Linked DNA regions of Homo sapiens: all the other regions are linked to region 4. The links come from fine-mapping of genetic effects on plasma protein levels. Region 4 holds a variant in brackets. A gene starts in each other region. All regions are shown on their reverse strands. Region 1 holds the start of MEGF9 (multiple EGF like domains 9). Region 2 holds the start of ERBB2 (erb-b2 receptor tyrosine kinase 2). Region 3 holds the start of EGFR (epidermal growth factor receptor). Region 4 overlaps MSL2 (MSL complex subunit 2).

Evidence for each region. PIP is the chance, under the fine-mapping model, that this variant and not a neighbour inherited with it causes the effect. Protein levels are from antibody-based Olink assays in UK Biobank. Linkage for the fine-mapping came from a reference panel and not from the study's own genotypes, which makes the PIPs less certain.
Region 1: it holds the start of MEGF9, and the variant in region 4 is fine-mapped to the plasma level of the MEGF9 protein (UK Biobank, PIP 0.98).
Region 2: ERBB2 starts here. The variant in region 4 is fine-mapped to the plasma level of the ERBB2 protein (UK Biobank, PIP above 0.99).
Region 3: it holds the start of EGFR, and the variant in region 4 is fine-mapped to the plasma level of the EGFR protein (UK Biobank, PIP 0.96).

Annotation. Positions count from the first base shown.
Region 1 is chr9:120,709,530-120,718,926 of GRCh38, reverse strand. MEGF9 (multiple EGF like domains 9) reads left to right here and starts at 4,457. Exons shown (of 6, transcript NM_001080497.3): 1 at 4,457-5,169. The coding sequence starts at 4,569. RefSeq lists a silencer at 3,920-4,769.
Region 2 is chr17:39,699,703-39,703,499 of GRCh38, reverse strand. It overlaps ERBB2 (erb-b2 receptor tyrosine kinase 2), which reads right to left and starts at 3,436. Exons shown (of 27, transcript NM_004448.4): 1 at 3,189-3,436. The coding sequence starts at 3,261. RefSeq lists enhancers at 1,453-1,952, 1,953-2,454.
Region 3 is chr7:55,010,133-55,019,499 of GRCh38, reverse strand. EGFR (epidermal growth factor receptor) reads right to left here and starts at 483. Exons shown (of 28, transcript NM_005228.5): 1 at 135-483. The coding sequence starts at 222. LOC105375284 (a long non-coding RNA gene) reads left to right here and starts at 578. Exons shown (of 4, transcript XR_007060329.1): 1 at 578-2,939.
Region 4 is chr3:136,178,066-136,186,065 of GRCh38, reverse strand. All of the region lies in intron 1 of MSL2 (MSL complex subunit 2), which reads left to right. Among named protein-coding and RNA genes, the nearest start is that of MSL2, 14 kb to the left of the region's middle. The variant ATTTT/T (reference allele first, on the strand shown) is at 4,141.

The sequences.
Region 1 (9,397 bases), not on the chromosome of region 4:
AAAAATTTTTTCAAGATGGAGTCTTGCTCTGTCGCCCAGGCTGGAGTGCAGTGGCACGATCTCGGCTCACTGCAACCTCTGCTTCCCAGGTTCAAGCAATTCTCCTGCCTCAGCCTCCCAAGTAGCTGGGATTACAGGCGTCCGCCACCACGCCTGGCTAACTTTTTTGTATTTTTAGTAGAAACGGGATTTCACCATGTTGGCCAGGCTAGTCTTGAATTCCTGACCTTGTGATCCACCCACCTCGGCCTCCCAAAGTGCTATGATTACAGGCATAAGCCACCGTGCCTGGCTCACAGACAATTCTTGAGCCATTTCTGTGTATTTGACACTGTGCTCGGTGCTGACTAATAAAGTGAGAAATCAGTTGGGGCCCTTTAGAGCACCTCATTTGCCTAGGAGAAAAGTCAGGCTGCACATTGGCTCCAACAAGGCCCACTCTGACCCCTGCTGTTCTGTGGTCCTTCCCTAAGCCTTTGGCTCCAGGTCTCATGGGCCTTAGCTACAGTTCTGGGGCAAATAGGAAAAGTGCCAGTCAATGTTCTGTTACACAGAGTGTCACAGCTATAATTTTTATTTTTTCTTTTCTTCTTACCATTATGAGGATTTTCCATTTATAGTTAAGGGTGTCAGTGGGAGCCAGCCAGCCTCAGTTTGATTTCTAGCTCTATTATTTACTAAGTGACCATGGGCAAGTTGCTTAACCTGTGACCTAGTTTCCTTAGCTGTAAAATGCAGATAATAATAGACTATAGACTGAATGTTTGTGTCCCCCTAAAATTCACACGTTGAAATCCTAACTCCCCATGTAAAAGTATTTGGAAGCGTTTGGGAGATGATTAGGTTATAAGGGCAGCGCCATCATGAATGGAATTAGTGTCCTTTTAAAGGACACCCAGGGAGCTCACTGAATCTGCTGGTGCCTTGATCTTGGACTTCCCAGGCACCAGAGCTGGGAGAGATATATTTTTTGTTGTCTACAAGCCACAATCTACAGTACTTTGTTGCAGCAGCCCAAATGGACTAAGACATAATAGTACCTATTTCCTGGGGTTTTTAGGATTAAACAAAACAATTCATATGTAGCTCTTGGTATAGTGTCTAGCATAGACTATGAGCTCAATTATTTACTATTAATATTTGCTATACTGTCTTCATAGCTACACTTACAATGACTTTCTAGGATTAAATTTAACAGGTATAATAATACCTTTCTTTGATGACAGATATGTAAGGTATTTCCAATTTTTAAACACAAACATAATTCCTAAGAAAGTCATCTTGTAGTTTAGAGATTAAGGAAGATTTAAGATTAAGGAAATTTAAAAATTAAATGTTGAATGGACATTAACACATTTAAATTACTGGTATCTTTCAAAAAAATTCAATATTTTCTATACATATGACAGGCTAATATCCCATCTTAAAAGCCCCGGCATGGATGATCCTTGCCTAAGGCAGAGAGCTGACCTGAATCACTCGACAAGGTCTCCTAGTCATTTGCTCTGTGGCTCTCCTGGCCAAGAAGCTGCATCAGCTTTTTTCCCCTTGCCAGAGAACCTCTGATACAGCAAAGCTCAGGGCCAACCCAGCATTTTTCAGATATCATTTGGAAATATCAGGTAGGGCAAGTGTCAGGCCATGTCACCTGATGGGGAACTTATGGGGCAGGGGTTTCTGCTCTGGTCCTTCAGCCAACAAGTCTCAAAGTTAGCAATGGTATAACAAAAATATGAACCTACACAGCTTGAGCACCGTCTGTGTGCTAGGCTCTGTAAAAACATTCTCCTCAATCCTAGTCAACAAATGAGAGACTATTTATTGGCCCCATTTAATAGATGAGAAAAGTGGCCTGGCGCGGCGGCTCATGTCTGTAATCCCAGCACTTTGGGAGGTCTAGGCCGGAGGATAACTTGAGCTCAGGAGTTCGAGACCAGCCTGGCCAACATGGTGAAACCCCGTCTGTACTAAAAATACAAGAATTAACTGGGCCTGGTGGCAAGTGCCTGTAATCCCGGCTACTCGGGAGGCTGAGGCAGGAGAATCGATTGAACCTGGGAGGCGGAGGTTGCAGTGAGCCAAGATCACCCCACTGCACTCCAGCCTGGGCGACAAGGGTGAAACACTGTCTCAAAAAAAAAAAAGTGGGGGGGAAAACTGAGGCTCAGAGAGGTGAAAGGTTTCCTCCAAGGTCACAGAGTTGGCAGTCATGACCCAAGTCTGTCTGACTCTAAAGACACAAGCTCCTCCCACAAGCACGACAAGACCTCAATTAATTCAATTTAACCAGCATGGGTTGGCACTTACATGTGTTGCCCCTGCTAGGTTCTCAGAACAGGGAGAACATCTGACGTAAGAGACAGACACATAAATAACAAGTTCTAGTATTAAGGCTGATGCATGCCTATGAGAAGTAATAAAGCCATGTGGGCAATACAATTTATCCTGTTGTATATATTTCTGAAAGCCATCCTTAATCCTTTTAGGAAGAGGCAACGGAGAGGTAGATTGGTAGATCAGGGCTGTAATCAATGCATAAACAAGGGGTGGTGGGGAAATGAGAAGGGAGAGATTAATTCCCACTCAAATCCAGGAATGTCTTTTAGAGAATGTGACATTTTGGTTGGGGTTTGAAGGGCCAGGGAGGGTCAGCAAGGGAATATGGGGGACTGGCATGACCTGTCCACCCTCCCAAAGCAAAGTAAAAATAGAACCTTGGTTAGTGCTTGCTAAATATTGGTCCTGAAGACAGAACACTCACATTCTCCCTCATTCCCGCTGTCTTATATACATAGACCTATCAAGACACACCCATAGATAACCACAAATGCAAAAACACAGAAAATACACAAAAACACACACCAGTACACATGCACAGATTATTAAGACACAATATATGAAAATAGATACTAGCTCCCATACTCATAAACTCACACAGATACATACAACACTCATACACACAGACTCACAAACATGTTTATGCATTCATACACAGCCTCCCCCACCCACTACTCATGCAGGAAAATAAATGCATGCTTTAATTAACATACACGGGTTCACACATAAATCTCATCCTGCTGGTCTGGTTGAAGACCAATGACTAATGGGAAACCATGCACAAAGCCAAACATCACGTAGGGGAGGCCGGGATTGGGTTAGCAGTGGGGCTTGAATTAAGCCCCATCAGATGACAAACCCGCCCTGCCTGGCTTCCTCTGGAAGCTGCTGAGCCGAAGCAGCAGCGCCTGACCTAGCTCTGGATCCTGGGCGGATGATGCGAGGCTGCGTGCCCGAATTCCAGCTTGATTCAGGGTTTAGTGTCATCCAGGGTCAAGCTCGGCTATTAGCCCCACCCCAACCCCTGCAACCAGCCGGAGGCTCTGGGGGCACTGAAGGGCTGTGGCCTGGGGCTGCTTTCTAATCCTGGGCTTGCCCTGGCGCAAATGCTGAGAATAGTTAGCATTAATGAGGGTTACAACAGTGGGCCAGGCTCTGGGCTAAGCCCTTTACGTCCATGACTTAATTCTCACAACAGCTCTGTGAGGGGGGTGGGGGGTGAGGGGTGTCCTATCATCTCCATTTTAGTGGTGAAAAAACCGCGCTCAGGCCACAAAACCATTCAGCAAAAGACATCAAGTTGAGGTTCAACCCTGTCTGATCCTATTCTTCCCGGGGTTTAGGTAAGTGTGCTTGCGAGCCTGTCTCCTCCACGCAGGAAGCTTGCACCTTCTGCCCTCAGGGGTCTCCACCGCCCGGTCCCGCCCCCTTGTCCAGTCTGGCACAACACCTGGCCCACAGCAGGTTTCTGGTGAGGGCGTGGGTCTCGGTTCAGGGAGGCCCTCAGCAAGGGCCTCAGCTTCCCCATCTCTGAAATGGGAATGGCGGCAGAGACCTCGCAAGGCTGCGACCAGGCTCTCTGGAGCAGCAGAGGGCATGCCAAGCTCTACATCGTCGCTGCCGCTGCCCTCTCCCATCGCGGGGTTCCCGCGCGGTCCCCGCCCGAGCTGGGGTGCGGCGCTGGCGCCCCATTGTTCAGGAGGGCGGGGATGCTCCCGAGTGCTGATTCCACCCCCCGCTCGTGCTCGCAGCCCGGTGGAGCAGATGACTAGGCCCGGCGTCTGCCGCGCGGGGCGCATCCTTTGTCTGCTCCGCGGCGCCCGGTGCCCGAGGCCCGCGCCCCACTCTTTGGGCAGACAAAGCCGGGGCCGCCGCGAGCCCGGCGGGCTAGAGCTGGGCTCGCACCACCCTTCTCCCGCCTCACGGACCGCCCCCTCTCCTGGACGTCCTCTGATTGGCCTACGGGGCTACAAAGAGGCCGGGAAGCGGGCGGATCACGTGGGCGACTGTGGCTTCCCATTGGTTAGGCGCGGCTGCCAATCGAGGAGGGCGGGCGGTCCGCGCTCGGTCCGGTCGCTCCCTCCGCGCTGGGGCCCGCCCGCGGGGCCGGCCGCCTGTCAGAGGGAGGTGGCGATGGTGCGCCCGGTGGCGGTGGCGGCGGCGGTTGCGGAGGCTTCCTTGGTCGGATTGCAACGAGGAGAAGATGACTGACCAACCGACTGGCTGAATGAATGAATGGCGGAGCCGAGCGCGCCATGAGGAGCCTGCCGAGCCTGGGCGGCCTCGCCCTGTTGTGCTGCGCCGCCGCCGCCGCCGCCGCCGCCGTCGCCTCAGCCGCCTCGGCGGGGAATGTCACCGGTGGCGGCGGGGCCGCGGGGCAGGTGGACGCGTCGCCGGGCCCCGGGTTGCGGGGCGAGCCCAGCCACCCCTTCCCTAGGGCGACGGCTCCCACGGCCCAGGCCCCGAGGACCGGGCCCCCGCGCGCCACCGTCCACCGACCCCTGGCTGCGACTTCTCCAGCCCAGTCCCCGGAGACCACCCCTCTTTGGGCGACTGCTGGACCCTCTTCCACCACCTTTCAGGCGCCGCTCGGCCCCTCGCCGACCACCCCTCCGGCGGCGGAACGCACTTCGACCACCTCTCAGGCGCCGACCAGACCCGCGCCGACCACCCTTTCGACGACCACTGGCCCGGCGCCGACCACCCCTGTAGCGACCACCGTACCGGCGCCCACGACTCCCCGGACCCCGACCCCCGATCTCCCCAGCAGCAGCAACAGCAGCGTCCTCCCCACCCCACCTGCCACCGAGGCCCCCTCTTCGCCTCCTCCAGGTGAGTCCGGCGCTCCCTCTCGGGCAGGACCCGTCCTCACCTCAGCCCCGGCAATCTAGGGTTGGGCTCTTGCCTATAATTTATCGTTTGTTACCCCAAAGACACCCCAGGTTCCGGCTCCCGAGGGGGGATCCCAGGTCCAGCTAGTCTCCCTCCCGCCCCCGATCAATCTGGAAAGTCTTTTGTCCCCCGTGGGCTGTGCTCCCTCGGGAGGGGGTGGCTGCTGGGTGGAAGGCATCTCATCTTCTTCCCAACAGGGCTTTCTGGCCTTTTTCAGAGACCAGAATGGGCGCAAACTTTTGGGTTGGGTTCGCGCACCCAGCCTCTCTGCCTGGGTTATTTGGGGAAGTTTGAAAGCCCGCATAGTACCTCCTTCAACCACTGGGTCAAAAGCTGAGGGTAAGGAATTCCTCCCAAAGCTCCAGTTTCCCTGTTCATTTCTTCTTGTTTATGTAAATATCAGATGTGTGTGTATGACAGGTGGAAGAGAGGTAGTGAGAGGATTTTGTTTACAAACAGTAGTATGGACCACTTGAGGGCAAAAAATAAAAACAAAAAAGGCATTGTAATCCATGTTGTCCCTGCAAATAAGTGGATTCAGTAGGTCATTTGGGACAGGTGTGTATCTAGGCTGAGCACATTTACAAATTAGGTTAAATCTCTTCCTCGCACCATTTTTTTCTTCCACAATTATAAGGTCAACATGTTTGGCCAAATACACCATTTAAGCAAGGATGCCTATTTTTGTCTCCTTAAGCCAGGATGTTCAACTTTGCTGATGCTGATATATGCCAATTTCTGTTTGAGCCCACGTAGAAAAGGCTTTTCTTGCTGAAGTCTTCAAGCAAAGTTAAAGACAACTCGTATTCTTTCCCCGTTTAAATCTTAAGTGGGCCTAGGACTAAAACAAAACAAAACAAAAGCCTACTTTGTCAGAACGTTTGGACAAAAGTTTCTGAATTGTCTTGCTTTGAGTTGGGGTGGAGGTTTGTCCAAATCCTTTGTCTAGCTGGGTCTCTGACCTAAATCTTAGGCTTAGTGATTTACTGTGGAGTCAGGTATGGACTTTGGACTATAATTGAGTGTGTAGAGAATTTTCCCACATGGTTATGAACCTTAATACAGTCTTGATCCTTGGGTTGGAGCTTGGCAATGACATAAGTAGGATTATTCACCCATAAAAAGCCAAGTGTGCATCTCTTCCAGCTTCAAGGAATGCATTAGCTAGCTGGGTTTTACCTGTAACCCCTTTTGGCTTTCATATAGAGAGATTGACATATTACTGAGAGACAGGAAGCATAGTGGTTGAGAGTATGGACTCTGGAGTTTATTCTTAGGTTTGAATCCTAGCTCTTCCCCTTGTTAGCTGTGTAAGCTTAGGCGGCTCACTGAAGCTCTTTGGACTCAGTTTCTTTGATTGTGAAATGAAGATAATATTATAGTAGTACTTAACTCATAAGGTTGCTGTGAAGACTTTTTTTGTTTTTGTTTTTGTTTTTTGAGACAGGGTCTGGCTCTGTTGCCCAGGCTGAAGTGCAGTGGCACAATCTTGGCTCACTGCAACCTCTGCCTCCCAGGCTCAAGCGATCCTCCCACCTCAGCTTCCTGAGCAGCTGAGACTACAGGCGTGGGTCACCACACCCAGCTAATTTTTTGTATTTTTTGTAGAGATGAGGGCTCACTATATTGCCCAGGCTAGTCTTGAGTTCCTGAACTCAAGCAGTCCTCCTGCCTCGGCCTCCCAAAGTTCTAGGATTTCAGGCATGATTCACTTCACCAGGCCTGCTGGGAAGATTAAATAAGTTAACACTTACTGTGCTTACAACAGTTCCTAGTGTAGAATAAGCACCGTGTGTGTTAGCTATGCTTATGACCAGGCCTGTGGGTGTGTGTGTGTGTGTGTGTGTGTGTGTATGTATGTATGTATAGAAAGCATTTGAGAAAACTAGTAGGGACTTGGGGTGATTTTTATTTGTTTTAGTAAAATATAATAGAAAAAGAATGAATTAGATTCTCTGGAGTTTTAAGCATACAGTAGCATTTAAGTAGAAAGATCACTTACTTTGGTTAGTATCTGATAAATAAATCTGTGTAATTCATGTTATTTTACTTTTACTATTTTTGTGTTGTTATTTTTCAACCCCAAAGGTAACCCCTACTGGCAAAAAAATATAAACAACCAGAAGTCCACAAAGGAAAAAGGGAAAGTCACTCCTTCACTGCCTCCTAGTTTCAGTCAGTCCCTAGAGGTTACTACTGTTAGCAATTTGTCAGATCTTTTTTCAGCTGTTTTTGCTGGGCATATATGAACATACACACAGGGTATTTAAAAATAGATTTTAAAAAATCAAAATGGAATAATTCTATACATGTTTTGCAACTTGTGGTATTCACTTAACTATGTATCATGGACTTTTAAAAAAAATATCGGTATCTAGGGTCTACTTTATTCTTTTTAATAGTTGCATTTTCCAGGGTAAGAATGTATCATAATTTATTTAACCAAGCCCTTATTTATGGACACTTAGATTGCTTCTAGGCTTCACTTTAAAAAGCAGAGAGGAAGCAGCACAGAGTATTTTTGTTAAATCCATCATCTATTTACTATATTCTCTAATACTTTCACTGGAGTTGCTTAGAATCCAATTCAGTATACACTGCAGTAAAGCTGGATTGAGTAATATTTGTCATCTGAACTGTTGTTCAAGGCTTTTAATAATTTTCATGAACTAACATTATACTTACGTCTGTGATGGTCTTTGGGTGAAAAAATCTTGGAAGGATGTCCAATTTCGATAACTTTCCTGTGTTTTAAATATTAGGTAGTTTGTACTTCTCTGTGAATTCACTCTAGATTGCCAATATCTAGTTCTCAGCAGCTAAATTGACTTTACAGTGATCTGATCAAGTATGGAGCATGGGCTCCAGTCTACTTTAAACAGAAAACATATCTCTTTGGCAGAAGGAAAACTTATAATTGAATTTGAGACAACTGGTTTGGCTTGCAAAGTTGGATTCCCTGGCATTTGAGAAGATGGTTGTACAGTATTTTTTAATTTCAACGTTCCTGTAAGAACTAATGCCACTGATAATATATTATTTGATTGAATAGGTCTTATAGATGCTTTTTGAATTAATAATAATTTCTTTCATGGAGATCTAGCTGAGAGCTCTTGCCTGCCCCTCAGTTAGGGCCCTTTTTTGTTTACAAGGACACTGATCTGCAAACTGAAACTAATTGCCCAGCAAGCAGGCACTTTTTCTCCCACAAACCCAGCAAAACATTCACTGATTGGTTGGCTGGGTAGGACTTTTTTTTTTTTTTTTTTTTTTAAGACGGAGTTTCGCTCTTGTTGCCCAGGCTGGAGTGCAATGGTGCTATCTCGGCTCACCACAACCTCCACCTCCCGGGTTCAAGCGATTCTCCTCAGTCTTCCAAGTAGCTGGGATTACAGGCATGTGCCACCATGCCCAGCTAATTTTGTGTTTTTAGTAAAGACAGTGTTTCTCCATGTTGGTCAGGCTGGTCTCGGATTCCCGACCTCAGGTGATCTGTCCACCTTGGCCTCCCAAAGTACTGTAATTACAGGTGTAAGCCACCGTGCCTGGCCCTGGGTAGGACATTTTAAGCAGGGTGAAGAGAGATGCTGTGATACCAGAGGTAATAATAATCAGTAAGACACTAAGGTAATGACAAATGTTTGATTTTTTTTTTTTTTTTTTTTGAGACGGAGTTTCGCTCTTTTTGCCCAGGCTAGATTGGCTCACTGCAACCTCCACCTCCGGGTTCAAGCGATTCTCTTGCCTCAGCTTCCCAAGTAGCTGGGATTACAGGTGCGCACCACCATGCCTGGCTAATTTTTGTATTTTTAGTAGAGATGGGGTTTCACCATGTTGGCCAGGCTGGTCTCGAACTTCTGACCTCAGGTAATCTGCCCACCGCGGCCTCCCAAAGTGCTGGGATTATAGGTGTGAGCTGCCGCACGCTGGCCCAAATGTTTGATTTTAAAAATTATGGACCCTTAGGGGTAGATAGGACTTTAAATGCCACTACCTCCTAATGTGGCTCTACATTTGAAGAAATATTTCCATAGGCTTAGCTGAAATTTCTTACTTTAGTTAACTGATTGATCTGGCTCTGCCCGTTGGGGCCATGCAGAAAAAGTTGGCTGTCTCTGTGCCATGACAGCTCTTACAGGTTAGGGGACAGGGATCATGATCCCTCTCT
Region 2 (3,797 bases), not on the chromosome of region 4:
ACAGAACTGGGACAACACAAACATTCGCTAGAATAATTCTCCCACTCCTTGAAAGAGTACACATCCCTTACCCCACCTCGGCTCTCTTCCCAGGGGGAGGATGGGTGGCCAAACATAAGATGGAGATGTCACTCTAGAGGGGCTTCTCACAGGTGGAGGGCAGGGAAGGAATCTCTTTCCAGATCATTCCATCACCCAAGGACAGGCACAACTACCCTGGGCCCCACCCCAGCCCTCCCAGCCGCAGCCCCACACTGGCCCCTCACGCTGACACTTCAGCTGTCTCTCTCACCCACAGCCCTGTGTGTCAACGTGGCCTCTGTCCCCTCCTGCCCGCAGCCCCCTGTCATGCTGGTAGGGCCCAAAAGGAAGACAGGCATTGGCTGGACAGGAAGGGAGAGGACTCTGAAGTCAAGAGGGAACCTCAGGGCCCCCAGCTCAGCTCCACTTTCTACAGCCTAGAGAAGTGGATGGAAAGGTCATTCGCCTGAACAAGAGGAGCGCTTCTCCTCCCATCTGGCCACCTGCCTGCCCCTAAGGCTTTGTTCAACCCATTATTGTTGGCTGGAATAAGACTCTAACCACCTCTTAATGCCTCCTCTTCAGAGTCCAAAAATTCCCTGGACATTACTGGGTAGCTGGGAGCCTTGGATAAGTTGCTTCATTTCTCTGAACTTCCATTTTCTCATCTGTGCACCTACTTCACAGGACTGTCACAGAGATTAAATGAAAGCATGGATAAAAACCTAGCATATAGGAAGTACACCGTACATTTCTTAAAAGTTAAGACAAGACAGGTTCATACAGCAGGAATATGGGTAATCCCAAACCACGAGAAAATTAAACATGCTTTGTGTTTGACTTTGGAATGCCACGTATTTTTTCTTTTTACATTTGATCCCTATCTTTTCAATTGTTTTTTTCTTGACAAATAAAATGAGTACTTTCCCCAAGTATAGTAAAGAGAGGAGGCTGTTGGAAGAATCATACTGGAATTAAAATATGAAGGAGTTCTGCAAGATTAAAAGGATGTATTTGCTGCAATTTGTAAAACCCATACCTCTAAGAAAGGATTTCAGAAAAATCCTGACCCCTCTGGGGCTCCCCCTAGGCCTCCCCTTCCCCCACATTCCTGCCCCAGACCTCACCCCTTGGGTAAAATCTGGGTGCTGGAGGCAGCTGGGTGGTATACTTTTTTTCTGAAACGGAGTCTCACACTGTCACCCAGGCTGGAGAGCATTTGCAATCACAGCTCACTGCAAGCCTCAACTTCCTGGGCTCAGGTGATCCTCCTGCCTCAGCCTCCGGAGTAGCTGGGACTACAGGCACGTGTAATCACATCCAACTAATTTTTGTATTTTTTGTACAGAGTTTTGCCTTGTTGCCCAGGCTGTGCAATGACTTTTTAACTAACTCCTGCACAACACAATCAATAGTGCAGGTTGAGGGGTGAGGACATGAGGAGGCCCCATCCAGAGAACCCAGCCCTCAAATCCAGCTCTGCAGCAACTGCCATTCCCTGATCAACTCCCAGCCCAAGGTGAGGAAGGGCAGCAGCTCAGCCTGACAGCTCAGTATGGCCTCACCCTTCTCATCAGAAGATGAGAGGTGAAGATGCTTGTCTGGGAAACAGGGAGGGCAAGGATGTACTCCCTGGAAGAGAGGAACCTTCTTCCTCAGCAAGAAGGCGTGGCCATAGAAGGCTACCTCCCTCTGTTTATGGCAGATCTGGCCCAGCACCTTAAGGGAGTTCCTGCAGAGGACAGAGTTCAGCCTGTGTCCCCAAGTCAGCAGAGAGACTGCTGTTTGGCAACACAAAGCCCAGACACACAAATACAAAGACCACACAACTGAGGAACACCCTGGCGTAGACCTGCAGAGATAACACGGCCATGCACTCACTCACAGAGGGCCCCTCGGGCAACACACAGCCACGATGACACCCACTCCCTCCCCAGACCCTCTGACCTATGGAGACCACCCACGACTCCCAGAACACTTTCATTTTGTCTCCCCTGCAGCCCAGTGACTCAGGGAGCAGTGTCCCTCATTGCTCCAGGTGCACTCATCCATATAGCGATTTCGAATGCATGGTTGGGGGTCGCACTGCCTGGGGTCCCATCTTGACCCCACCACTTACTAGCTGCTACTCAACCTCTGGACTGCTACTCAGTCCAGAATGCTGGCAGAACTTCCACTATAGGGGTGTTCTAGGATTAAAGGAGAATGCATGCAAAACACCACAAACAGTTCCTGGCAGAGTATACCTGGCCCAGGCTATATGTTAGCTTTTATGATTAATGCACACAGGTGGACAGATGGGTCAGGATACACACTGCCCCCACTCACCCTTCCCCACGCACAGCACCAAGGAAAAGGCAGCAGAACAACGCAGCCCTCCCTAGGCTCCCATCTGGCCTTATTTCTTAGCTTCCTTCTCTGGGAACTCTCCCACTTTACACCCCAAGAAACCCACCCCCACCCCTCCATGGTCCACGCGCTCCAAAAGTCACAGAGCACAGTCCCTAAGCTGGCCCCAAGAATCTGTTCAAAGCAAACGTCTCCCCCGCCCCCAACCCAGACCCCAGCAAGAGGCCACCCTCCGGGCCACCCTTTCCTCCCCGGCTCTGGTTGGGACAGGTTGCTATGCCACCCTCCACTCCACCACACACACACACACCCGACCCCGCCAGAAGCAGGAGCAACCAAACCAAAATCGTCTGAAGGGGAGCGGGGAGGGGCTGGAGGAGGGGCAGGGCAGAGGACCCCCCCAAGGAATCCAGCCCAGGCCAGTCCGGAGGCGGAGGCTGCCAACTGGAAAGGCTTTGAGAAAGCTTGAGGGGGCTCAAGAAGGGGGGAAACGCGCGCGCGCGCTCTACGCAATACACCCTTTGCGGGAAAACTTTCTGAACAATTTCAGAGAACTTCTTTGACAAGTTCCCGGAGCCCCTCGGAGCCTGGAAAGCGCCAGTCTCTTGGATGGGCCATCTCGAGCCGCTGCCGTGTAACTGCCCCCTCCCGCCCGAGGGCCCCAGGGCCCGGCTGCCCTGAGCGTCTCGACTGTCCACAACTTCGGGATAGGAGAGCTCGTCCGGGCCCCTCTGGCCCCGCCGGCCGCGGGACCTCGGCGGGGCATCCACAGGGCAGGGTCCCGCCGCTGCTCCGTCCCCTCCCCACACCAGACCCACCTTGGGTGCTCGCGGCTCCGGGGGGCAAGAGGGCGAGGAGGAGCCCCCAGCGGCACAAGGCCGCCAGCTCCATGGTGCTCACTGCGGCTCCGGCCCCATGGCTCCGGCTGGACCCGGCTGGGAGGGCGCGGGGCGCGGGGTGCTGCGAGGGGTGGGGGCCGGGCGCGCGGCGCAGTAAAGGGCCCCGTGGGAAGGGGCGCGCGGCTGCCCGGGGGGCTCCCCTGGTTTCTCCGGTCCCAATGGAGGGGAATCTCAGCTTCACAACTTCATTCTTATACTTCCTCAAGCAGCCCTCCTCCTCCACCTCCTCCTTCTCCTGTGATTGGGAGCAAGCGCGCTCCCAGCTCGCCCCCTCCAACTGCATTCCAACAAGTCTGGGAGTGGCAACTCCCAGCTTCACTTTCTCCCTCTCTTCGCGCAGGCCTGGGTGCGTCCCTCCTAGCGCCGGGACGCCTGGGTTGCCTGCAGCCGTTCTCACACTTTTCCTCGGAGAATCCCTAAATGCAGAGGCTGGTGACTCTGCCCCCTCCCCCGGAGTCCGGGATAAATTCCCTAGGCTGCCACTCTTAACACCCTTTTAAGTCTCAGGTTTTATCTTAAACTTTCCTG
Region 3 (9,367 bases), not on the chromosome of region 4:
TGATCTCAAGGAAACAGGAAAGGACGGGCGGGGGCGCGGGCGCCGAGCCGGTGCGCCGGTGCGCGGTTGGGCGGGCTGCGGGGTCCGGGGCGCGATCCGGGGGCGGCGCGGGAGCCGGCGAGACACGCCCTTACCTTTCTTTTCCTCCAGAGCCCGACTCGCCGGGCAGAGCGCAGCCAGCAGCGCCAGGAGCGCTGCCCCGGCCGTCCCGGAGGGTCGCATCGCTGCTCCCCGAAGAGCTCGCTCCGGCTCTCCCGATCAATACTGGACGGAGTCAGGGGGCCGTGCGCGGTGGTTGTGGCGTTGGCGGCGAGGCGGGGACTCGGGCGGACGCCGACGAGGTGGCCTGTCGTCCGGTCTGGGCGGCGGCGGCCGCCGGGGCTAGCTCGGGACTCCGGCCGCCTCGGCCGCGTCGGGCGCTCACACCGTGCGGGGGGCGGAGGCTGCTGCGGCCGCGCTGCGCCGGGGGCTGCCCGGACGTCTAGCTCGCGCGGGCCGAGGCGCGGGGAGGCAGGGCGGGAGGAGGAGGGACCAGGCGGCGGAGGAGGGATCGGGAGGAGCAGAGGAGGAGGAGAATGCGAGGAGGAGGGAGGAGAACCAGCAGCGGGGACCCAAGGCCAGCGGCCGCCGGAGGCGGTGGACAGCGGTGGCCCCCGCGGGACCTAGTCTCCGGCGGGAGTGGGGCGGCGCATGGGAGGGGAGCGGGTGCCCTGAGGAGTTAATTTCCGAGAGGGGCGTTCCCAGCACTGCCCCTCTGGACCCGGTCCCCGCGGACTTGCAGGCCCAGCCTATGTCCAGGTCGAGCCAAATCTGTGCCAGGGTCCCCTTCCCCCTTTCCCTTCTTTTGTTTTACAAAGCAAACTTGTACCAGCTTTAGACAGACTGGCCGAGCCTTAGAGCCAGCGTCGGATAATGGCACCGACGGGGAAACTGCTCCTTTATTCGGGTCCCCACCTCCCCTGCAGCACTACGGGACCCTCTCGGGGATCAGAGGCTGGCCTGGCAGCTGAGGAGGTCGCCGTGCCCGCGCGGCAGGGGTGCCAGGCGTCCGAGGTGGTGCTCTAAAGTCCGAGGGTCCTTCAGATCTTGTCAAGCACCCTCGAAATCATCTGAAATGAGGGCACCCAACTCCGGGTGCAGAGACAGGCCTCCTTAATGTTTATTGCAACCAGCCATGGGTACTTTGAAGCCAATGTGTGAAGCACATTACTTCGCAAAAGTGAAGCTCTTGGAATAAAGGCTTGACACAAACAGCCGTGGAGGTGCTTTTAGAGAGGCTAAGTGTCCCACTGCCCCTGTAGCTCCCGCAGGAGAAATGCCAGGGAAACTCGCGGAAGCTTTGGCCAAAAGAAACTGAGCTTTTTTGGGCTGCAGGAACTTGAGCTATATTCCTTTGGCAAGTCCACCCCATCCCCACTGTTCCTTCTCCTGCAGTAAAAATGTCCTCTAGGTCCATGTTACAGCCAGACCCCTCCTCTCTTCACGAGATTCACTAGGACCTTCAGGCCTGGTTCAACAACCCTGATCTCTCGGCTCTGTCAAAAATCACAATCCTGAAGTAAGTGAAGCTACAGACCTGCCCTTTGCTGTCTCTGAAGGGGAGCAACCTTACATCTTTCCTCCTCATCCAGCAAAATGTTTGTGCCTGGGTCTCGCACCCTGCAGCCTGAACGGTGGGGTTTTTCACCAGGGCAAGCGCAGACAGACACAGGTCTGCTCACTGCCCGCACAACCTGGAACTTCCCTGTGAATTAGGAGAAGTAATCTGTTCCTTTGTTTTAACAAATCAGTACAGCCACTGTGCGTTGAAGTCATGCCCTGAATGCAGAGGCCATGAAGGCTCTGCAGGCATGTGTGTGCTTCCTGCACACCTGGGCTGAGAGCAGTCCGTAGAAACACAGAAAACAAAACTAGAGAAAGGCAAATGGGAAGCACAACAGTGGAACATAAAATGAAGACAGGAGTGAGTCTTACAATAAAAGACCTGAATACAATAAAGTCCTGTGCATTCACTTAACAAGGGCTGCAAATTTGGTTTTAAACTATATTTTCTGTCAAGGGAATGTGACCTGTGTGTACAAGTCACAACACAAATCAATTTAAGCTACAACTGATTTGTAAGACTGTACAGGAATTTCTTTGAGTGCCCAAAAAGACAGCATGTAAGAACATCAGTTCTCACTACGTTAGGACTATATGAGACAACAGCCTTCATAGTACGGCTTGTATATTCTTCAATGTGATCTGATAGCATCACAAGAAACAGAGCTTTTTGTAAAGAATTACTAGACACACACATAGCACAATACTGGGATGGATTCCAGGGAACAGAGAAGAATGGGTTTGCTGAACATCTTCATGGGACATCTATGTAAAGTTTGAGTTTCTCCTTTGAGCTTTTGATACAAAAGCTGACATTCACGTTGATTTTGTAGTCCTTGGCTAGTACCTGGAGTGTGCTGATAACTGTGTTACTTGGTAAGTAAAAAACTGTATGGCCGAGCAGGCACTAATGAAGTCCTCTTAAGAGAGATAAGTAGCCTGGCATAGTTAGGGCCCTGCACAGTTAGGGCTCTAGCTCACAGCCTCTGTGGAGGGTGGTCCTAGACCATGGCCCGGACAGAGGCTGGGTGTGTGTGCCACCACCACAGGAATGACAATAGTGGCCCAGTTGCTGTGTTAAGCATTGGTCAGACTAAGCTTATCTGATAACCTGTGAGCTGGTTAATACTTGTATCTGCCTTTTATAGCAATGTGATGCTGTGGCCGGGAGAAGTGACCAGGATACCAAGGTATACTTGCTAGTATGAGAGGCCAACTTTGAATCCAAGGCAGAGCCGTGTTTTACCCCTCTTGTCCAGCAACGCTTCAAAACCTGAGACAAATGGTGATGTCAGGACCTAAAATTCTATTTCATAATGTCTTGGAAATTTGTTAGGGTGAGTAATACCAAAATTTCTGCTTGGCCAAAAAAATTATAGATAAAGCCTTCATGTATGCTATATTAGCAAGTATGTACTAAGACTCTAGTATTTCCCTTAATAAATCTCATAAGCGTCTGTCAATTTTAATAACACAGATGGTTCCATCCCTTTGCCAGCTGTACATGAGAAACTTTTTTCCTCTGATGAGTGGTTATCCTCTTAGAAGAAGTTTCTGAGTATGTTGAATAAGAGTTTAGTCTTGTCTATAAGGAATGTGGCTCTGAATTTCCTAAAACCAAATGCTCTGTGAAAGGGGAGGAGAAACACGTTATTTGGCAGGGTGAAGATCTGAGGTCTTCAAATATTCTAAGTTCCATCTTAGGCAAAAGGCATTTGACCACCTGTTTTCTCTGGCTTAGAGGTCAAAGTAAAGATTGATTAGGAAAAAAAAACATAGTGGCAGATTTTAGACTTTCAAAAATATGTTTTATAAGTTATTGGAGCTAAGTAAAAGTAGAATAAGCTATGTCAGAGTGGAAAGGGCTTTTTTGAGAAAGATTTTTGTGCAAGAACAATAAGTACTAATGGAGGTTGTGAATTAAGGACTGACACAGGTTCCTTCCAACCCTAAAGTTCCTTAAGAAAATGCACTTCTAAAATAGGTTTTCACTTAAACATGTGTTCACTTGACAGCTCTTCTAAGGATATATGTTAAGGAGATACAAGAATCTGGTAACAGCTTTGCCTCTAGGGAGGAGAACTAGGTAGCTCGGGGTCAGGGGTTTAGAGGGAGACTTGTTTTTCAATTTGTCCTTCTGTACCATTGGGATTTTGTACCAGGAGCATGCCTCACCTATTTCTGCAAGGTAAGTGTGGCCCCTGCTGAGGTTCAGGGACACTCCTGGGGGCAGGCTTTCATGGTTTCTGAGACTGTTTATTCCTTCTCCTTGAAGGAAGTCATTTGCCTTGAGCTCTGAGTTGAGACCCATCTCTTGCAGAATGTGGAAGAAGCAGCTTTTTCAAGGGGTAATGTGCTGACAGAAAACTGCTGAAGCATTTCTCCTTTGTCATTAGTATGCTTCATCATCTCTAGAGTTGAGGGTTACATGTCACTATAGGAGGCACTATTGGCGCTCCATTCTAGCAACAAGTAGAAAGCTGAGCAAACCGAAAAATTAACACCTCTTCTTAGCTCTTTCAGAGAATTGAGGTCATTGGGCAAACCACTGCCCCCCAAATTGGAGAGACAGGCAAACACAGAAGCACAACCTCCAGAGGAAGAAACCAGCAGACAGAAACCTCCAAGGACCCAGTGCCGGCTGGGAAAGTTTGCCCTGTAATTGAGAAATTGCGGGAGGCTCAGTGTGGGCAGTTCTGCAAATTAAGAACTCCAGCAGAGCCCAGTCATGGTGCAGGGTAGTATGAGACACTTGAGAGTGTTACCTCCTGGAGCTCTGCTAGGTCCTTACCACGAATATTAGGGGGAAAATCTCATTATGCTTCTGGCAGTGGAAGGAGAAGAGGAACCATTTTGAAATAGGTTGGAACATTCTATTATTAATAGAAGGTCTGCCCTCAGGAGAAATTATTTCACCAGAGGCCTAACCTGGTGTTTTATCAGAGGGTGACCTACCCAGAGCAAGGGAAATATACAACTCCACCCCCCTCCAACAGTTCTGTACCATCTAAGGGGCTGGGGAAGCTGAGAAGCAAGCATGAAGTTCACAGTCCAGGGACACAGGCTCACTGGAAGACTGTGACATGCGGCAGGACTGTGCAACACTCCCTCTCCCCACAGCTTGTCACTACGTCACTAGAAGCCTCTTTACTACAGCTCCTCTTACCCAGTATATCATTTCCACATTGCAAGGCACACTAAAAGGCAAAGACGCAGTTTGAAGAGACTGCACAAGCATCAGAACCAGAATGAGACATGACACGAACGTTACAACTAACTGCTGTGGTTTGAATGTGTCCCCGAAAAGTCCATATATTGGAAACTTAACCCGCTGTCCTCATGAATGAATTCACATGGCTCTCATGGCGGTGGGTTAATTCTTGTGGGAGTGGCTATGTTATAAGAGTAAGCTCTCTTCACACGTGATGCCCTCTCCCATGTTATGATGAAGCAAGAAGACACTCATCAGATGCTAGCACCAAGCTCTTGGACTCCCCAGCCTCTAAATCAGCCTAAATCAGCTTCTTTTGTTTATAAATCACCCAGTTTGTGGCATTCTGTTATAACCACAGTAATTGGACTAAGACATTATCACATCGGAGTATTAATTATAAAAAAACTATGATTAATAGGCTAGGAGTTTTAATGGAAAAAATAGGCAACATGTAAGATCAGATGGATAATGTAAGCAGAGCCATGGAATTTTTCTTTTTTTTGAGACAGGGTCTGGCTCTGTTGCCCAATCCAGAGTGCAGTGGCGTGACCTTGGCTCACTGCAACCTCAACTTCCCAGGCTCAGGTGATCCTCCCACCTTAGCCTCCTGAGTAGCTCTGACTACAGGCATGCATCACCATACCTGGCTAATGTTTTGTAGAGATAGAGTTTCACTATGTTGCCCAGGCTAGTCTTGAATTCCTGAGAGATGAAAGTTTTAAGAAAGAATTTAAAAATTCTAGAGATCAAAAACACTGTAAAAGAAATGTAGAATACTTTTGAAGTACACATTAGTGGGCTGAACATGCTTGAGGAAAGAATTTCTGAGATTGAAGATACGTAAACAGAAACTGCCAAAACTGAAAAACAGAAAGAAAAACGACTAACAAAAAGAACAAAACAAAACTTTCAAGAACTGTGAGATAATTACATGTAATGGGAATACTGTAAGTCAAAGAAAGAGAAAAAGGAGCAGAAGCAATATTTAAAGCAATAATACCAAAAATTCCTCCAAATTAATGTCAGACAACAAATCACAGATTCTGGAAGTTCAGAGAACATCAGGAAGATATATGCCAAGAAAACCCAAACAAACAAATGATACCTAGGCATAACATATTCACACTTCAGAAAATCAAAGGTTAACGAAAAATTCTTAAATGAAGCCAAAGGGAAAAAACACCTTACCTGTAGAGGAGCCATAAAGAAAATACCTATAGAGAATATTAGAATTACATCCAACGTATCCTCAGAAACCATGCAAGCAAGAAGAGAATGGAGTGATCTGGTGTATGTCTTCATCTTTTTGGGCTTCTGTAACAAAATAACATAAAATGATTTACTTGTAAACAACAGAAATTTATTTCCCATAGTTCTGGAGGCTGGGAAATTCAAGATCAAGGTATTTGCAGATTTGATGTCTAATAAGGGCCCACTTCTTCATAGATGGCCATAATTTCACAGTGCCCTCACATGGCAGAAGGACCAAGGCAGCTCTCTGTGGTCTCTTTTATAGCACTAACCCCATTTGTAAGGCCTCCACCCTCATGACATAATCCCCTCCCAAAAACACTCTCCCCTGATAACATCATTTTGGGAGCTTACATTTCATCATATACATTTTGAGGAGACATAAACATTCAGTCCATTGCAGTATATTTAGACCACTAACATTTAAGGTAATTATTGACATAGTTGGATTAATAGCTACCATATTTATTACTATTTTCTATTTGCTGCCCTTGCTCTTCTTTTCTTCCTTTCTTTTTATTTATTTGCTTGTTTATTTTAGAGGCAGGGTCTAACTGTCTTCTAGGCAGGAGTGAAGTGACATGATCACAGCCCACTGCAGCCTCAAATTTCTAGGCTCCGGTGATCTTCTCATCTCAGCCTCCTGAGTAGCTGGGACTACAGGCACAGTCCTAGCTAATGCCTGGACTTTTTAAAATTATGTTTGTATAGATAGTGCCTTGCTATGTTGCTCAGGCTGGTCTCAAACTCCTGGCTTGAAGTGATCCTCTCCCCTTGGCCTCCCAAAATGTTGGGAGAAAAAAATCTAGGGCAACTGATTTTAAAAAGTTAAAGACTAAAATAATTGCTATGCTAAAAAGAGGAAATCGAATTATACAAAATGCTGTGTAAAATCCACAGAGGCAGAAAAAGTGTGGAAAACAAAAATAGAAAAAATGAGCAAGAGTGTGGTGGCTCACGCCTATAATCCCAGCAAGAAAATCAGCAAAACCAAAAAGTGATTCTTCAAAAAATCAATAAAATTTATAAGCCTCTCACCAGGCTAAGAAACAAAGAGAGAATACACAAATTATGAATATCAGAAATGAAAGAAGGAACATCACTACTGATCTCATGAACATTGAAAGGATAATAAATGAATATTATGAACAGCTATACCCACGAATTTAACAACCTACATGAAATGAACCAATTCCTTGAAATAGAATGTACCAAAAGTCATACAAGAAGAAATTGCCAATCAATATAGGCCTATATCCACTATAGAAATTGAATAAATAATTAATAACCTTCCAAAACAGAAAGCACCAAGCCCAGATGAGATCAGTGCTGATTTTCGTCAAACATTTAAGAAAGAAATTACATCCATTCTCTACAATCTCTTCCAGAAACTAGAAGTAGAGGGAAGACTCCATAATTAATTTTGTGAAGCCAGAATTACCTTAATAGCAAAACCAGACAGAGATATTACAAGAAAGGAAAGAAAACTGTAGACCGATATCTTTTATGAACATAGATGTAAAAATTCTCAAGAAAATATTACAAAATCAAATGCAACAAAGTGTAACAAAGTTATACATGATGACCAACTCCGATTTATTCCAGATATGCAAGACTGGTTCAACATTTGAAAACTCAATTAATGTAGTTCATCACATCAACAGATCATATCAATAGATAAAGAAAAATTACATGATCATATCAATAGATACAGAAGAAAACATTAGGCAAAATCCTACACCTATTCATGATAAAAATTCTCAGCAAACTAAGAATAGAGAAGGATATCCTCAACTTAATAAAGAACAGCTACAAAAACCTATAGCTAAAATCAGGAACAAAGCAAGGATGTTTCCTTTCACCAATGCTTTTCAACATTGTATTAGAAGTCCTAGCTAATGCAATAACACACAATAAATAAATAAAATGAATACTGATTGGGAGGGAAGAAATAAATCGTGTTTGTTCACTGATAATGTAATTGTCTCTTAGAAAATCCAAAAGAAACAATAAAAAAGCTCCTGGAACTAATAAGCAGTTATAGCAAGTGAGCAGGATACAACGTTAACATACAAAAGCCAATCACTTTCCTATATACCAGCAAAGAACTAAGGGAATTTGAAATTAAAAACACATTACCATTTACATTAACACCCTGAAATGGAATACTGAGGTATGAATATAAGAAAATATGTATAAGATCTATAAGAAAAAAACAAAAAAACTCTGGTGAAAGATATCAAATAACTAAATAAATGGATCAATAGTTTGTGTTCATGGTCAGAAAGACTCCATAATGTCAAAATGTCACTTATTCCCAACTTGATTTATAGATTAATCCCAGTCAAAGTTCGAGCAAGTTATTTTGTAAATATTGACTAATTGATTCTATGGGCAAGCAAAAGACCCACAATAGCCAACTCAATATTGGAGAACAAAATTGGAGGATCAACACTACCTGACTTCAAGACATATACAACTACAGTAGTCTAGACTATGTGGTATTGGTGAAAGAATAGACAAATATATCAATGGACCAGAGAGATCAGAAACTGACGCACATAAATTTAGTCAATTGATCTTTGACAAAAAAGAAACACAATACAATAGAGCAAGTATAGTCTTTTCAACAAATATTGCTGGAACAAATGGACATCCACATGCAAAAAATGAATGTAGATACAAACCTTACACACTTCATAAAAATTAACTCAAAACTGATCATACATATAAATGTAAAATGCAAAACTATAAAACACCTAGGAGATAACGTAGGAGAAAACCTAGATGACCTTAGGTATGACAATGACTTTTTAAGTACAAAACCAAAGGCACAATCCATGAAATAAATAATTTATAAGCTGGAGTTTATTAAAATTAAAAACTTCTGCTCTGAGAAGGACAATGCCAGGAGAAGAAGACAAGCCATATACTGGAGAAAAATTTGCAAAAGAAATATGTGATAAAGGATTGTTATCCAAAATATGCAAAGAACTAAACTCTTAAAAGTTAATAATAAGAGGATAAATAACCTGATTTAAAAATGGGCCAAAGCCCTACACAAACACCTCATCAGAGGATACACTGATGGCAAGTAAGCATATAAAAAGATGTTCAACATCATATGTCATTAGGAAATTGCAAATTAAAACAACAGTGAGATACCACTACACATCTGTTACAATGGAAAAAATTCAGATCAGTGACAACACCAAATTCTGATGAGGATGTGGAACAATAGGAAGTCTCATTCATTGCTGATGGGAAGGCACAATGGTACAGCCACTTAGGAATGCAGCT
Region 4 (8,000 bases):
AGAATTCTTCAGGGATTTTTAGCGATATGGTTGTGGTAATTGAGCTAAATATTCTGCAAAACAGCCATGCTGTTGTTTTGACAACCTCTTTTAGAACAATTTTTTTTTTTGGCTTCCATTTTCCCCAAGTTACCTTGTCTGTATGTAATTGTCTCCATTGATTTTAGTTTTGTCTTCTGGAATAATTCAGAAAGCCTTTGATAAAATTTTGCCCTTCAGCGTTGGAAGACAGCTTTGTCATTCCTGAGGAGTTGGGTCCTGGCCAGGCGTGGTGGCTCACGCCTGTAATCCCAGCACTTTGGGAGGCCGAGGCAGGTGGATCATCTGAGGTCAGGAGTTTGAGACCAGCCTGGCCAACATGGTGAAACCCTGTCTCTACTAAAAATACAAAAATTAGCCGGGCGTGGTGGTGCGCACAGGAGAATTGCTTGAACCCAGGAGGCGAAGGTTGCATTGAGCCAAGATTGCACCACTGCACTCCAGCCTGGGCGACAGTGAGACTCTGTCCCTTCCCCCACCCCCCCCTCCAAAAAAAAAGAAAAAAAGAGTTGTGTCCCAAGTTATTCTGGTAGCATCCTTGTTTTAGTTTCCTCTAAAAGGGTGATTTTTGTGTCCATATCTATAGTATTTTAGATAAGGTTAGATGAAGTTATCTTCTATGATGACTTGAATGATTTTTCTGTTTCATTTGTAAGATGAGGTTGTTGGATTAAAGCATAACTTTTGCTATGAATTTGATTTCCAGACTTTTTTTTTTTTTTTTTAGCTTTGTTAAAAATTTGCTGAATTGGGCTGAGCACAGTGGCTCATGCCTGTAATCCCAGCACTTCAGGAGGCTAGGGCTGGCGGATCCTTTGAGGTCAGGAGTTTGAGATCAGCCTAGCCAACATGGTGAAACCTTGTCTCTATTAAAAATACAAAAAATAAGCCGGGTGTGGTGGCGCATGCCTGTAATCACAGCTACTTGGGAGGCTGAGGCAGGAGAATTGCCTGAACCTGGGAGGTGGAGGTTGCAGTGAACTGAGATCCTGCCACTGTACTCCAGCCTGGGCTACAGAGCAAGACTCAGTCTCAAAAAAAAATGAGTTGGTGGTTACTGTTTCCAAACCTAGACCTCACATAAAAATCCAAATTTTTAGGCACTTCCTGGAAAAGTATGAGGTTTTGCAACAGTGGAAGCATTGAATTGGAAGCATTCCATTATTGGCTAGCATCATTGGCTAGATTTGAGAGATTGGCTTTTTTCTTTGGTGGTAGGAGTATGTCCTCCTCAGTTTGTCCTTGGTCACACGTGACCTTTGTCCCCCCCCCCCCCTTTTTTTTTTTTTAACCTTTATCTAACTTGCTCCTGTAAGAATTCGGGTTTGTAATTCTCAGGAATGAAGGATTTATCCAGGCCCCTTCTTGTACGCTGGAGGTTGTTCAGAACCATGGAATTCTTTTTTTTGTTTGTTTGTTTTTTTGAGACGGAGTCTCGCTCTGTCGTCCAGGCTGGAGTGCAATGGTGGGATCTCGGCTCGCTGCAACCTCCGCCTCCTGGGTTCAAGGGATTCTCCCACCTCAGCCTCTGGAGTAGCTGGGATTACAGGCTCCTGCCATCATGCCCAGCTCATTTTTTTTTGTGTTTTTATAGAGACGGGTTTCACCATGTTGGCCAGGCTGGTCTTGAACTCCTGACCTCAGGTGATCTGCCTGCCTTGGCCTCCCAAAGTGCTGGGATTACAGACATGAGCTACTGTGCCCAGCCCAGAACCATAGAATTCTTTTTTTCAGACGGAGTCTCACTCTGTCGTTCAGGTTAAAGTGCAGTGGCACCATCTGGGTTCACTGCACCCTCCGCCTCCCGGGTTCGAGCAATTCTCCTGCCTCAGCCTCCCGAGTAGCTGGGACTACAGGCGCCCACCGTCAACGCCCGGCTAATTTTTTGTATTTTTAGTAGAGACGGGGTTTCACCGTGTTAGCCAGGATGGTCTCTATCTCCTGACTTCGTGATCCGCCCGCCTTTGCCTCCCAAAGTGCTGCGATTACAGGCATGAGCCACCACGCCTGGCCAGGACCATAGAATTCTAATGATGTGATCTTCAATTATTTTGTGAAATCTTATTACCTGGATAAGAGTCAGGATTGCTTTATCTTGTTTGGCAGTTAGAGAACAGTTGTTGATTCACAATATTTCTGGTCAGTTAAAACATTTTCACAGGTTAGTCGATAGTATTGTTCATTATTTTCTCTGTTCTTACAGACTCTTAGTAGTTTTGTCAGTTATTGAGTTGAAATCTGAACTATATGTGTTTTCAGTTTCTCTTCAGAGTTTTATCATAAGTTTTTGCTGCATGTATTTTGAAGCTCTGTTGGTAGGTTTATGAAACCTTTTGGAACTTATGGAATATAGTTAAAATAACTACCATTTTAATAACTTTGATTTTTCTAGCCTGGGCAACATGGCAAAACCCTGCCTCTACAACAAATACAAAAATTAGCTGGACATGGTTGGTGCGTGCCTGTAGTCACAGACCCTTGGGAGGCTGAGGTGGGAGGATTGCTTGAGCCCAGGAGGCAGAGGTTGCAGTGATCGAGGTCGTGCCACTGCACTCCAGCCTGGGTGGCAGAGTGAGACCTTGTCTCAAAAAAAAACCAAAAAACAAAACTTTCATTTTAAAAATTTTTCATAGAGGTGGGGCCTCCCTGTGTTTCCCAGACTGGTCTTGAACTCTTGGCCTCAAGTATTTTTCTCCTCCTACCTTGGCCTCCCAAAGTGCTGGGGTTACAGGAGTGAGCCACCGCATTTGGCTTAATATAAATTTCATTTTTAATGTTGTTTACTAATTCTATCATCTTTCATTTTCTGGGTTTGTTGCTCGCACTGGTTTTTCTTCTCATCATGGGTTATATTTTCCTGCTTCTTTCTTGGCCTGGTTAATTTTCCAGCTATTGTGAGTTTTACCTTGTAAAATTTTACTTTGTTGCTGGATATTTTTGTACTACAAATATTCTTGAGCTTCGTTCTGGGATGAGGCTAAGTTACTTGGAGACTGTTTGATCCTTTCAAGGCTTGTTTTTAAGCTTTTGTTCAGCAGAGTCGCAGCAGCTTTTAGAGACTAGTTTTTCCATGCTACTGAGGGCAGGAACCTTCTGACTACTCATCTGATGCCTTGTGAGATTCTCACTTTGGGTAGTGGAAGGAGGAATTACTCTGCTACTTCTGTGAGTTGTGGGGATTGTTTCCACTGCTTCTTTCTGGGGCTTCTCTGGTAGTTTATACGCATGTGCTAATTAATCAGTACTGAGCTGAAGACTTGAGAGGGACCTGGTACACCACTCTGGACTTCTTTCTCTTTTTTTTTTTTTTTGAGACGGAGTCTCGCTCTGTCTCCCAGGCTGGAGTGCAGTGGTGCGCTGGACCTCTTTCTCTGTGCAGCTCTCTCATCTCTGTGCTTCGCTCTGACAAGTCCAGCTGCCTTGGCTTCCAGCTCTGGCTTCTCAATTCAGGGGAGCTTTTTCTCCCCCACCCCCCTCAATCCAGGCTTTGGATTCTCCCTCCCTGTGCTTTTTGGCCTGAAAAGTATTCCCAGGCAATAAGCTAGGATGGTTGTAGGGTTTATATTTGTTCCCCTTTTCAGGGATCACTGTCCTGTGCCGCCTGTTCGTCAATATTTGAAAACCTATTGTTCTATTCTGTTTTTTAGTTATTTCAGTTAGGAGAGTAAATCTGATTATTCCAATTTTGTCTGGAAGCAGAATAAGATCACATTCTAAACCTACATTTTATACAAAGCCACTAGCCATATGTGACAATTTAAATTTCGTCTAATTAAAAGTAAATACAATTTAAAATCCAGTTCTTCTGTTATCCTTAACAACATTGTAAATGCTCAGTAGCCACATGTGAGTGTAATGGCTTCCTTATTGGACATTGCAGATATAAAACATTTCCATTGTTGCATAAAGTTCTGTTGGACAGTGTTATAACATTTAAAGAACTTAGATTTGTTCTTAAAACTGTGTGAGAAATTTGCCTTCAGTGTTTTCATCTTGTTTAAGTTTTGATTTTTTAAAAAAATTTTAAATTAAAAAATTTTTTTTTCTTCAGCCCACGTAAGTTTTGATTATTTATTTATTTATTTATTTATTTATTTATTT[ATTTT/T]TTGAGACAGAGTCTCACTCTGTTGCCGAGGCTGGAGTGCAGTGACACTGTGTTGGCTCACTGCAACCTTCGTCTCCTGGGTTCCAGCAGTTCTTCTGCCTCAGCCTCCCGAGTAGCTGGGATTACAGGCGTCTACCACCACGCCCGGCTAGTTTTTGTATTTTTAGTAGATACGGGATTTCACCATGTTGGCCAGGCTGGTCTTCAACTCCTGACCTCAGGTGATCCACCTGCCTCAGCCTCCCAAAGTGCTCAGATTACAGGTGTGAACCACCGCGCCCGGCCAAGTTTTGATTTTAAAACATTGAGCTGGATGGGGTTGTGAACAAATTTTTGGAGCTTACCATTTACAGACCTTTAGAACAATTTCTTCACCTTAGTAATCGGGCCCAAGAAGGTGTTCCACGGTGGTAGTGAAAGGACTTCTGTTACTTTAGAAAAAGAGAAAACATTTTAAATGTTTATCTTCCTTTAAAATGAGGTAATGTGAAGAGATGTCAAATGAGCATGAGACAAATTAGTGGTGCTGTAACCAGTTAATAATTCAGCTTAATCCTTCTGTCATGAAGGTTTCATATTGTTTTAATCTTAGTCATGTATTTTATTAACTCTTACTCATTGTTTCAATACTTCATTCAATAGATCAACGGTTAGAGACAAGAAGCATTAAGAAAATTAAGTCGATAATGAAATACTAGATGATGAGCATAAAAATGTAAATGATTCTAAATATTTGGTTCACGATTTTTGTTACTTTTTTCTTTTTTTTTGAGACAGAGTTTTACTCTGTCGCCAGGTTGGAGTGCAGTGGCGCAATCTCACCTCACTGCAACCTCCACCTCCTGTGTTCAAGTGATTCTCCTGCCTCAGCCTCTTAAGTAGCTGGGATTACAGGCATGTGCCACCATGCCTGATTTTTTTTTTTTTTATTTAATAGAGTCAGAATTTCACTACATTGGTCAGGCTAGTGTTGAACTTCTGACCTCAGATGATCCACCCTCCTCTGCTCCCCCGCCCCGCAAAGTGCTGGGATTACAGGCTTGAGCTACCACGCCCGGCCAACTCCTTTTTCCTTCCTTCCTTCCTTCCTTCCTTCCTTCCTTCCCTCCTTCCCTCCCTCCCTCCCTCCCTCCCTCCCTCCCTCCCTCCCTCCCTCCCTCCTTCCCTCCTTCCCTCCTCTCCTCCTCTTCTTTTCTTTTCTTTTGTTTTTTCTTTTTTTTCTGAGACGGAGTCTTGCTCTGTCGCCCAGGCTGGAGTGCAGTGGTGCGATCTTGGCTCACTACAACCTCCGCCTCCCGGGTTCCAGCAATTCTCCTGCCTCAGCCTCCCGAGTAGCTGGGATTACAGGTGCCAGCCTCCGTGCCCGGCTAATTTTTGTATTTTTAGTAGAGATGGGATTTCACCATTTTGGCCAGGCTGGTCTTGAACTCCTGATCTCGTGATCTGCCCACCTCAGCCTCCCAAAGTGTCTTTTATTCTTTATAAGTTGTCTGTGTTAACATCCTGTATCTGAACAGGTCCTTGGTAATATTTCAAAAAGTAACGTTAAAAAGAGAAAATACAGTGCTACCCAGTATTGCTTTTTATTTTTGGAGACCAGAGACTGTTCATACTTGGAATGTGTTATTTGAAGTGTTTGTAGATGCCGTTTTGAAGCCACTTTTAGCTTATCACGTAGTAACAAAATACAAAAATTGTTAAAAAAAAATTTTAGTCGGAAACATAAGAAGTCCAAATATCAGGGTACATAGGCAGTTTTGCCCCTGTGTAATGTATGCCATTTTAGCCTACATTTTTAACATTCATGAGTTTACAAACAGGGCATGCCATTTTATTTTTATTTTTTATTTTTTTTTTGAGACGGAGTCTCGCTCTGTTGCCCAAGCTGGAGTGCAGTGGAGGGATCTCAGCTCACTGCAACCTCTGCCTCCTGGGTTCAAGTGTTCTCTTGCCTCAGCCTCTTGAGTAGCTGGGACTACAGGCCCCCGCCACCACGCCTGGCTAGTTTTTGTATTTTTAGTAGAGGTGGAGTTTCACCGTGTTGGCCAGGCTGATCTCAAACTCTTGACCTCAGGTGATCACCTGCCTTGGCCTCCCAAAGTGCTGTGATTACAGGTGTGAGCACCATGCCCAGCCCAAGATAAGCCGTTTTAAAGTAGATATGTCAACAAATGCATTTTAAAACTTAATTTAGATAAAATTGTCTTTGTATGCTTTAAGATGATCTTTATAGTATAATCTTGCCTAATATGCTGATTAAAAGTAGTTTTTTTTCCTTCAAATCATTTAATCACATTTACTACTTAAATGATGAAATGTCGCCAGGAGTTCTTATTACTGTGGAAGATGACTTCAAGGGAAGAAAAAGTTAAAAGTATTTTTAGTGATTCCTTATCCTGGTTCATCAGAATTTGGGAAGCTTTTACAAAATACACATTCCTCGCTGGGCAGGATGGCTCATGCTGTAATCCCAGCACTTGAGATGCCAAGGCAGGTAGATTGCTTGAGCCCAGGAGTTCAAGACCAGTTTGGGCAGTATAGTGAGACCCTGTCTCTACCAGAAAATAAAACATTAAGGATGGTGGTCCCTGCCTGTAATCCCAGCTACTCGGGAGCTTGAGGTGCAGGGATTGCTTGAACCCAGGAGGTTGAGGCTGGTTTGAACCATGATGGTGCTGCTGCACTCCAGCCTGGGCGATAGAGGGAGTACTCTGTCTTTAAAAAAGAAAAAAGTGAACAAAGTGAACACCTGTGACCAAATTTGAACACAAGGTTTATGACCATTACACTAAGACTGGTATAGCTAATTGGGAGGCTGAGGTGGGAGGATTGCTTGAGCCTTGGAGGTCAAGGCTGTGGTGAATTCTGATTGTGCCACTGCGTTCCAGCCTGGGTGACAGAGTGAGACCTTGTCTCTTAAAAAAAAAAAAAAAAAAAAAAAAGAAAACCAACAAAATAACTACATTCCTGGGCAGCATCCTCAGAGCTGGAGTAGGCCATGTAAGTGATCCTGGTAATAACCGTTTGATGGTAGTAGTGCTGTCTTGGAATACTCCACGTGTGAGGTTAAAAAAAGTGTGTGCTGGCGGGGCGCAGCGACTCATGCCTGTAATCCCAGCACTTTGGGAGGCCCAGGTGGGTGGATCACCTGAGGTCAGGAGGAGTTCGAGACCAGCCTGGCCAACATGGTGAAACCCCGTCTCTACTAAAAATAAAAAAGTTAGCTGGGTGCCATGGTGGGCGCCTGTAATTTCCCAGCTACTTGGGAGGCTGAGGCAGGAGAATTGCTTGAACCTTGTGAGGCAAGGTTGCAGTGAGCTGAGATTGCAGCACTGCACTCCAGCCTGGGCGACAGAGTGAGACCCTGTCTCAAAAAAAAAAAAAAAAAAGTGCCAGTAAATTTAAGCAGTGCTGTCTTAAGTTTTTTGACACCTATAGAATATTCAGTTTTAAGATGCTAATGTATTTTGGGATGACTCTCTTAAGAGGGTAATAAAGCAAACCTGGTTCCGTGCAACACCAATTTGGGAAATTTGGATCTTAATTTATGTTGGTTTATTGATTAATGTTTGTTCAGGTATGAATCAACTTAATTTTGCCTAATTAATCAGCCTACATTATCTTATAGGTAATAATTTTGTGAGTGGCTGTCATTGCTTTGCCAAAATAGGAAAATAATGGAATATTATAAAAGTGCTCTGTAACCACAAACATTCTATAAAAGCCTCCCCTACTTAGTTATTAAGATAAACGATGTCTGGCGTTCTCTTTTAGTTCTTACCAGAATATGAAATGAGGCATGGCTTGAGTATATGAATATGTTGTGGGTCTGAGTGGTTATACATATACATCATCC